2 separate regions of the Homo sapiens genome follow, and region 1 is linked to region 2. The links come from fine-mapping of genetic effects on gene expression. A gene starts in region 2. The other region holds a variant in brackets. All regions are shown on one strand. Distances are between the middles of the regions.

Evidence for each region. PIP is the estimated chance that this variant, and not a neighbour inherited with it, causes the effect.
Region 1: its variant is the best candidate, but not a certain one, in a credible set for the expression of MRPL44 in whole blood (INTERVAL, PIP 0.53).

The regions. Positions count from the first base shown.
Region 1 is chr2:223,920,657-223,926,043 of GRCh38, forward strand. The region is part of intron 1 of WDFY1 (WD repeat and FYVE domain containing 1); the gene reads right to left. It also overlaps the pseudogene GTF3AP3. Among named protein-coding and RNA genes, the nearest start is that of WDFY1, 22 kb to the right of the region's middle. RefSeq lists an enhancer at 1,298-1,798. The variant T/C (reference allele first, on the strand shown) is at 2,331.
Region 2 is chr2:223,954,509-223,959,895 of GRCh38, forward strand. It overlaps MRPL44 (mitochondrial ribosomal protein L44), which reads left to right and starts at 2,955. Exons shown (of 4, transcript NM_022915.5): 1 at 2,955-3,143; 2 at 5,026-5,387. The coding sequence starts at 2,965. RefSeq lists a silencer at 2,730-2,799 and an enhancer at 2,870-3,039.

The sequences.
Region 1 (5,387 bases), 34 kb before region 2:
TAAAACAAAGTCTCACCAGGCATGGCTGGTGCACGATCCTGAGGAGAAAATGGAGCTCAAAGTAAAACCATCTCGTGAAAAATGGAGTTTGGCCCTTGCCTCAGTGGATGCATCCCTCCTCAAGGGAAAAAGATGGGCAAGGCTTATCTTTGCTTAAAACAGAGAGTGGCTGAACCGTACGGAAGACAAGGTACTCTCGACAGTGGCTATCCTCGCCTTCAGCTAAGCATCACATCGCTTTGTTTACAGGACTGCGGACCAGTGGGCCTGGTTACCTTCCCTCAGAAGTCTGTTTTTCTTTATTAAAATCACTGATGTAAAACAACGACAAAAAATACAAGTCAAACTGATCAGAGACCAGAGGGACAATCAGAATAGTGGTTGCTTCTGGGGTAAGAGGAGGACTGAATGCAATCAGAAGAGAGAAAACTTTCTAGGGGAACATCAAGGCTCCGGGTGTTGGTAACCATGGATATATGTATTTGTTAGAACCTGTCCAACTCTACCCAAGATCTGTACACACTATTATATATGATTAAAAGTAAAACTAGTAGTTGGTCTTTATTTATCCAAACAAATAAGATGACCTAGCACCACAGTGAGATTAATGCTATTCTGTATGTGAACTGGATAGAAACAAGCCTTAGGGCTAACACAACTGGATTAATCCTTTAGATCCACCAACCAATTGATAGGAAATACAGAGGACATGGGAACATACTGAGCACCATTCAGCAAAGTCAAGACTGCAGGAAACTCCATAGAGAAATGACTCACTTTCTTCTACAAATAATTTGCAAGGGAAAAAAAAATAGAGAGGAAGAACAAACCTATGATTAAAGAGATTTTAGAGGTCTATCCAGCAATTAAAATAGGTAGACTTACTTAAATCCTAATTCAAACTAAAAGATATGTATAGATATTTGAGGATATTTTAAAGATTTTTTTTTTTTTGACAGGGTTTCGCTCCGTCACCCAGGGTGGAGTGCAGTGGTGTGATCACAGCTCACTGAAGCCTCGAACTCCTGGGCTCAAGCGATCCTCCCACCTCAGCCTCCTGAGCAGCTGGGACTACAGACGTGTACCACCACACCTGGCTGTTGCTCATTCCTTTGGGTGTGTTAATGGTGTCGCTGTTTGTTTTTTAAGAATTAAACGATAATTCCCATATATCACGTTTGCCATCCTCATTTGTCATCCTCAGCGTGACTACCACAGTCTAGGTCCCATCTTTCACACAGCAGTAGGCCTGCTCTCACAGGAGTAGTGGACTCTTGCCTCCCTCTGCTCCACCTCCAGTGTGCTGACCCCCAGCTACCTCTCCCAAGGAGCCGCCTGGATCACAGTGCCCCTATGCTCAGAACCCACCAGTGGTTATCTCAAATCCAGATTCAACTGACAACCTTAGCGCCTATGACTCCCCATCCCAGAGCCTGCATCCCAGTGAGCTGTCATCCTCACATTCCCTGAATACGTCCAGCTCAGGTTATGCCCTAAATCCACCTTCCTCCCCACCCTACCAAGAACTCTTCTCTCCAGACAGTGTTTTCTGAGCAGATCACAGGATGGATGCCATTTCAGCATAACTTCTTCATCTAAAAGAATCAGTGGATGCTTCTATCCAATGATGATCCTTAAACATGAACAGCCAATATATTATTGCAGTGAGTTGACTATATTCCATATTACTTAAATCAGAATGTTTATGGATACATTCCGACATAGGGGATGAAGCCAAAACCATTGAAATAAACAAGAGGCCAACTTCCTGCTAAGCATTAACTCTGTTCAAGGATTCTCCTCCACCTCCAAACACACAGTGACAAAGGCCAAGGCACCTGGAGATCAAGGATTCATGCAGCAGCACTTCACACTCACAGGCTTCATTCGTACAATCACAAAGTAAACCTGCCAGCTGCCTGTGTGTTCGGGTTTCTTAGGTCAAAGGAAGAACAGAATGCTGACATGTTCTAAAACTCTTCAAATCAATTCCAGCAATCTTAGGTCATGAATGTGTAGGTGGCTCAAAGGATCTAGTGGCATGTGCTCTTGCTCAGTGCTCATGGAAAGAAGGGCACAATTCAGAAATCAGAGAACTCTGCTGGGAGGAGAAAATCTTAAAGGTTGTCTCTTCCAACCAAGTATTTAACCTGGAAAAGTCTAATGTTAATTTCATACAGCTTTAGAATACTTAAACTAGCCCAAAGTCAAAATCGAACCTACTTAGATTCCAGCATTTTGAACACAGTATTACTTCCTTTGGAAGACAAACATCAGCATATAGTTTGGTTGGCACAAATTGGACCTATGCTGGGACCCATCTAATAAAC[T/C]AGGAAATTGTCAAGACTTCCACGATCTCTTAGGCTTTTTGTTTGAAAACTGTCGGTCACATCCCAGCTGAGAGAAGGCCCTCCTTGTCTGGGAATCAGGTTCCAAATGAGGCAACTGGCCTGGATGGTTGGCGCTACCTTTGTCTTTACACCTTCATCTGGCATTCCCTTCCATCTCTTTTCAAACCAGACCCTTCCTCTTCCAAGACTAAATCAAACCAAAGTTTAACCCTTAACACTATTGTACCCCAAGAACCTATTAAACAGAGATGCTCATTTCTATGAGTAATATACGAATGTATTTTGTATTATGTCCAGAATATTTACCAAATGGTTGTAAAAATAGTTTTAAGTTGGGCCACTTATTTAAAATACAACAAATTCCAGACTAAAAAATTACTATCCAGTAAATTGGAAGTAAAATCTACTATTCAGTAAGTTGAAAGCAACATAATAATAGTTTAGTAATATTTACAGGAGCAAACTATTTCAAAGTCTAGGATAATATTAATAAACTGTAATCCCAGCACTTTGGGAGGCCGAGGCGGGTGGATCACAAGGTCAGGAGATCGAGACCATCCTGGCTAACATGGTGAAACCCTGTCTCTACTAAAAATACAAAAAATTAGCCAGGCGTGGTGGCGGGCACCTGTAGTCCCAGCTACTCGGGAGGCTGAGGCAAGAGAATGGCATGAACCTGGGAGGCGGAGCTTGCAGTGAGCCGAGATCGCGCCACTGCACTCCAGCCTGGGCGACAGAGCAAGACTCCGTCTCAAAAAAAAAAAATAAATAAATAAACCGTCTAATCACTGAAGTGTCAAGATCAGATGGTATTATTTTTTGTATAAATCACAATATTTTCTGTCTAGATTGAATGTCTAAACCACTCTCTCCACTAAGATAAAACAGCTTATGTTTTCCTTTAATATTTTGACAATTTTACACCCACATAAACTCATCTTATGTTTTTCCTGCTGCTTATTCTGCCCATTTTTCTAATGGCTGGATTTTCTTTTATATTCCAGGACCACATCAATCTGGGGAAAAGAAATCTTTCCTTAAAACCACAACCTTAGAAACGTGTTCATTCTTTTCCAAGCTCTATTTTTAAGTTGTTTTAAAACAATAGTCTGATATTTTTCCAAAAGATCCTTAGAAAGGAAATGTGTCATTGCTTTCAGAGCCTAATAAATCTTTTCCAAACTTCTCCATGCTACCATTCCTGTGGAGGGCTTCTACCATCTATCTCCTCTGCACTTTTAGAGAAGCAAGGACTTGCATATAGCTGCAATATCTTCCAGGAACAGATGAGAAAAGGTATCTCCATATATGACTATGTTATACATATATAACTTACAGGGTATGCACGCCACTACCATCACTTTATTTATTTATTAAACAGAGTCTCACTCCATCACCCAGGCTGGAGCGGTATGGCACAAGTTCAGCTCACTGTAACCTCTGCCTCCTGGGTTCAAGCGATTCTCATGCCTCAGCCTCCCCAGCAGCTGAGATTACAGGCATGTGTCACCATGCCTGGCTAATTTTTGTATTTTTAGTACAGACAGGGTTTCACCATGTTGGCCAGGCTGGTCTTGGACTCCTGGCCTCAAGTGATCTGCCCGCCTCGGCCTCCCAAAGTGCTGGGATTACAGGTGTGAGCCACCGCACCTGGCCCCATGACTTTATTTGTTTATCATTGTTCAGCACTGTAGATGATTCATTTATTTTCCAAGTAAATAAAATTCCAAAATTGATTCTTTTTTATGCTAAATGTTTCAGATTAAAATGTTTTTAAAATGTACTGCTGTGCAGGGAAAGCAAAGGAACAACTCAAAACAATAACAAAATGCCACTTCTAGGGCTCTCATACTTCTTTGTCAGAATTGTAAATTAGAACTATTTGGCAAGAATTTTGCTCCAATATAGAGAGAAACAAATACACCTGCCCAATAATAATGACAACAACACTAATGATAAACTTTGATTAAGGAATTCCAGGCTTGGAAATTGGTTCTATAGAAATCATTTAATAGAATAAAAAAGGAACTACAAATTTAAAAAACTTCATATAAGCTTTATCCAAGGAGTAAAAATGGGGAAAATATGTTAAAGAATGAAATGGGTTAATGATAGAGTAATTCAATAGCTTATATAATCATTACAAATAGTTATGAAGTCCTGGAGCCCCAATAAAATGTTTATGAAATGGTCAGCTTTTTTGTTCCTAAAAAAAAAAAAAAAAAGCATAACACAGAGATTATTATAACCCTCAGAGATATTGCAGGTTTATCACAATAAAGCAAATGTCGCAACAAAGTGAGTCACACAAATTTTTGGTTTCCCATATGCAAGCTGTAGTTACACTATAGTCTGTTAAGTGTGCAGTAGCATTACATCTAAAAATCAATGTACATACCTTAGTTTTAAAATACTTTATTGCTAAAAAAAAGTTAACGATCATCTGAACCTTCAGCGAGGGGTAATCATTTTGCTGGTGGAGGGTCCTGCCTCAATGTTGATGCTGCTGATCCATCAGGATGGTTGTTGATGAAGGTTGGCGTGGCTGTGGCAACTTCTTAAAATAAGACAACCAAGAAGTTTGTTGCATCGATTGACTCTTCCTTTCCCAAAAGACTTCTCTGTAGCATGCAATGCAATTTAATAGCATTTTACCCATAATAGAACTTCTTTCAAAAGTGGAGTCAATCTTCTTAATGCCTGCTGCTCCTCCATCACCTAAGTTTATGGAATATTCTAAATCTTTTGCTGCCATTTCAACAATGTTCACCGCATCTTCATTAGATGTTGATTCCATCTCAAGAAACCACTTTCTTTGCTCATCCATATGAAACTCTTTAAACATTCAGCTTTTATCATGAGATTACAACAATTCAGTCACATCTATATGTTCCACTTCTAATTCTAATTCTCTTGCTATTTCCACATCTGCAGTTACTGAAGGCTTGAACCCCTCAAAGTTATCCATGAGGGCTGGAATCAACTTCTTCCAAATTCCTATTAATACTGACAGTTTAACCTTCTCTCAAGAATCAT
Region 2 (5,387 bases):
CCAGTAGGCAGTCATCTGAAAGTCTGACTGGGAGTGGAGGATCCAATTCTAAGACAGCTCATTCATTCACATGGCTGTTAGCGGGAGGCCTCAGCTACTCATCACATAAGCCTTTCCACATAGTTTCTTAGGCAACATCATAACATAGCAGCTGACTTCCTGACAGGAGACTAATCCAAGAAATACAAGGTATCTGACCAAAATGGAAGCTATGATGTATTTTATTACCTAACCCCAGAATTGATAAAAACATCCATGGTCTATTGGTTACACAGACTAATCCCAGCACAATGTGAGAGGGGAATGTACAAGGGTGTAAGTACCAGGAGGTGGGGCTTGTTGAGAGCCATCTTGCTGGCCGCTAACACACCAAAAAAGTTTTGCTTCCATAATTATGAATTAAAGTGTTTATAACAGAATTATACTAACATTGATGCATTTTTTTTGAGAAAATGTTTTCTGGAATAAGCTCCATGAAACCAATTAAATTTCTTGATCAATTTTCTATACAGCACAAGTATCCTATTTCTAATTGTATTTTCATGTTTCTATTGCTTAATGTATTTTCATGAATTTTTTTCCACATTTATTTCCTAAGATGTTATTTGTTGCTCAGGTTTACTAAGGCTTTTTGCTAATCAGTTTTACTATCATGAGTTTTCTGTTGCAGCTTTTAGATCTATCAAGTCAAATTTTCCATCAAGTCAAATTTTCCAAAGCTAGGTTGAACAGATGTAACTTTGGTGAAGACTGATTCTATATCGATATTTATCAGTAACTCCAATTTTGTATTTTGAACAGTTTTAACTATAGTAATTTTCATTCTATGGTAATTATTTCTGTCTGTAATTTTCCTTGTGAGTTGGATTAAAGGCCACTATTTGGTAGTTATTCCTTAGCTAATCTATGAAGTAGTGGTGAGTAATCCCAGGTGGTTCAGAATTGCTTGATTGTTCAGGAAGGTCCTATAGCAGAGCTTACTAACTTTGTTATCCATCTTTCTGTGCCCCGTATTCCAGCTGCCTTCACCATCATTGAAGGAATATATAAGCAATATCCCTGGCATCAAAACACAAAAGGTTGTGTTCCCCAAGGGTTAAAGTGAACCCTCAATCGCCTCACCTCCTCTTCCTAAGTGTGACTTTTCCCCACCCTTCCACCTGACCTTAACCCAATGAAAACTCGAAAGTTGTTGACATCTGTGAGCTTTGATCAAATTAGGGCTAACAGCAGGTTAAAGGAAAAATCAGGTTTTTGAGGGCTGAAAAACACATTGGCCTTTTTCTTCCTTAAAGTTTTCTGAGCCTGGATCCTGGAACCAAGTCCTCCTCCTATTATGTGTTTATTGAATAAATAGACAAATGTATGAGCAGATTTTAAAAAACTGGTTAATTCCTAAGTTCCATGAAGGGCATTAGTAGAAGAAATCTTTTGAGGACCTACATTTTTTTAATCTGCAAATGATGCTCTCGTTGTTGTATGACTGAGAAACTCTCAACACAGAGACACCTCATTTTAACTTAACATGATTGTGCTACAACTGGCTTAGATTATTTTTCCTAATAAATGAAATTCTACAGAAATGACAGTTCCCTGCATTTTCTCCTAATCCATTTATTGGATTGATGTTCCATGAATTTTCAATACTTTACATACATTGAAACAAGAAGGTCAATCGTAACCTCCTTTCACCCCTTCTTGGAGAATTTCCTTCAACCAGAAATCCATCAGTTTGTTTTTTGGTGTGTGCTCAGCCCCTCTTTTGCTCTCTCCCTCCCCAAAGGGAACCCTTTTATAAGCTGAGATGAACCATTTAGATTCTCCCTTTTGAAATGGTCAAGCTGAGAAACCCAAATTGAGTTCTATGATCCTGGCACTGAAGATTCTCGGGCTAAGTCATAACATGCTTTGTGGTCTGTGTTTCAGAGAGATGAATGTAGGTGAGCTGTGTCTGGGGAAGGGAGGAAGGTACCAGGCCAATTACACTAACCACGGAAAGAGGTGAGGAGAGCCACCAGGTACCTGCAGTGGAAATAAATGGAAAAAGCACTTGGTGGAAACTGCACCGAAGAGGGGGTTTGTCGAAACAAAAACAATCAAAGACATAGGAGTTCAATCTGGGTGACTGCTGGGGACACAGATGCCTTTAACAAAGAGATCACAGAAAGCATTGCCCCTTTGAGGGTCTAGATGTTCAGCAGGCAACTCAAAACTGGGAATTCAAACAAGCCTCCCTTTGTGACTTAATATGTTCTTTTAAAAATTGTACTGTATTAACAGTTTGGTAGGAAAGCAATAGAATTACATTGTTAAAGAGTGTTAACATAAAGAAGGAAGAAACTGTAATTCCCCTATTACCGTTTTATGTTTTTTTCCAGTCATTTTCCGGATGTTTAAAAATATGTACTATTAGATTGCTTTTAAAGAAAAATTTTAATTTTGGATAAGCCAACATTTCTGAGTCTAGGGTTTCCAAAACTAAGGCTTTTGGAGGCGTGCTGGGTCAAAAATAGAAGCTCGGTAAATACTTGCTCAGTAGTGGCCTAGAACACTAAATATAAATTAAAAATGTTTTCTTTTTTTGAGGATTTAAATGTTTCCTTAACCTGAAAGCGAAACAGATTTTTGTTTGTTTTGCTGTAACGAGAGAGGAAGGAACAAGAGAGTGACAGGGTGAAGCAACTTCTCCCAGAAACTTTTGGGCGCAAACGCCCTCAAGTCCGGATCATTGGAAAGTAACTCGAAGAGAGGAGAGAACTAGCGCAAGCGTAGCCTCAAGGCGGCCGCAATCACCCCGCCCCGGGGCTGTCTCCGCCCCTGCCCTCTCTCAGTCGCCCCGCCCCGGGGGCTGTCTCCGCCCCAGCCTTCTCTTCGCGTTCCGCGTTCCGGGTTCCGGGGGAAGTGTGTTACGGGGACACTGGCCCGACTACTTTCGTTCCGTCTTCCATCGTTTTCTCTCGTGCAATGGCGTCCGGGCTGGTAAGATTGCTGCAGCAGGGACATCGCTGCCTCCTGGCTCCAGTCGCCCCCAAGCTGGTCCCTCCGGTTCGGGGAGTGAAGAAGGGATTCCGCGCCGCCTTCCGCTTCCAGAAGGAGTTAGAGCGGCAGCGCCTTCTGCGGTGCCCGCCGCCGCCCGTGCGCCGGTAGGAGCCACCTCGGGAAGAGGTCTCAGGGTGGCGGTCGCAGACACTGGGTCTTCTTCCCGCGGCGTCGTGTCTGCGGCTGATGCGCCCCTGGGTTAAGCCTTAGGAAGTTTGCGATGGAGACACCCGTGAGCTGTGGGCGCGGGGCCTGAGGCAAAAAAAATGGATTTGTGCCGCGGGCGGTAGAGCTTCGGGCTGTTCCCGACGTTTTGAAACTACCATTTAGGATTTTGGCTACTGAAAATTGGGAGAAATGGGGCTAACTGGAGGGTCTTCCTTATGTGGACTTGGATGTTGTAGTCCCCGTTTGTAATGCCTGAGAATTCCGATAAGCGGGAAGAAAGCAGCCCACAGCATCGTAAATTAAGGAGAAAAAAAATTAATCTACAACCTGAATTCTGCTGTCTAGAGTAAAAGGAAAAAAAGTTAGCTTTAGATTTTTGCCCTAATTAATGCTGTTCTGGTAACAGGTTTGGCAGAGAGAGACACAGGTTTTTATAGCTTCAAACCAGATCATACTTTACATAATTTAAATTCCTTCATCTTGCTTTTTCTCTTTAATAATGTGTGTTTGACATGTTGTCATGGTATTACAAAGATATGTACCTCACTCTTTTTTATGGCTCTGTATATATGGGCCTATGAGCTCCATATTATTGCCATTAAAACCTATGTAACAGCGCGTAAAGGGGACGCATGTGTAGTATGAAATTTTGAAAGCTATTAGTACTTTAACATTGCCCTCCAAAAAATGTTGATCCACTTTGTACTCCTACCAGTAGGAACGGTCTTCTAACAGAGAAGATTATAGCAAAAAATAAAATCTCTTCTTAATTCCCATTCCCTTGTTTATTATAAGATTAAGTATTTTAGGCTCTCAAAGGTGGAAGAAACTTTATGGGTTGGACAGATTATATAGGTGTATATGTTATATGTATATCTTACGACTTTCAACCTAGGTTTTCATACTTTGCTTCCCTTTGTTTCTTAAAGGGGTTTTATATTGTGTTACGTATAAGTAATCCAGAGATGACTTAAAGTATACAGGAGGATGTGCATAGGTTATATGCAGATACAGGTATACCTCATACATATTGTAGGGTTGGTTCTAGACCACGACAATAAAACGAGTCACATGACTTTTTTAGTTTCCCAGTGTATACCTAAGTTATGTTTATACTATTCTGTAGTTTATTAAGTGTACAGTAGTAGTGTCTAAAAAGCAATATATGTACCTTAATTTAAAATACTTTATTGCTAAAAAATGGTAACACAGAGACACAAAGTGAGCACATGCAGAATTGCTACAGACCTTCAGTTTGTAAAAATAAAATGCAATAAATCTGTGAAGCACAATAGACCGAAGTACAGTGAAACGAAGTGTGCCTGTACTACACCATTTATATGAGAGACTTGAGCATCCATGAATTTCAGTATCCAGGAGAGTCCTTGGAACCAATCCCCTACAGATATTGAGGGATGACTGCAAATATAACATACTAGTGTTTATGGCTTGAATCTGTGAAATTAACATTTATGCTTCATACTTAGGTATAAAACATAGTATCATGGTTAGAGCAGAAATAAGGAACCTAAAAGTTAGGCTAATGGCTTGGTCTTTTATATTGAAGAACCAATTTCATGTGACAATTGGATCAAAGGGAAAATTAATCCAGTCATATATGTAGAATATAGCAAAGGACTGCCAGTATTTATCTGACTTTAGTCTTAACATTTAGAATATCAACCTGGCATTAAAAAGAAATATAACCTTCTTTCATTTCCTTTATATAATTAATAACATTACAACACAGTGAACAATTTTTATATCACAGTAACAGGTTGTTCTCTTTACCATCTCTTACTGTCTTTACATTTTCAGTTCAGAGAAGCCGAACTGGGATTACCATGCAGAAATACAAGCTTTTGGACATCGGTTACAGGAAAACTTTTCCTTAGATCTTCTCAAAACTGCATTTGTTAATAGCTGCTATATTAAAAGTGAGGAGGCCAAACGCCAACAACTTGGGATAGAGAAAGAAGCTGTTCTTCTGAATCTTAAAAGTAATCAAGAACTATCCGAACAAGGGACATCTTTTTCACAGACTTGCCTTACACAGTTTCTTGAAGACGAGTACCCAGACATGCCCACTGAAGGCATAAAAAATCTTGTTGACTTTCTCACTGGTGAGGAAGTCGTGTGTCACGTGGCTAGAAACTTGGCTGTGGAGCAGTTAACACTGA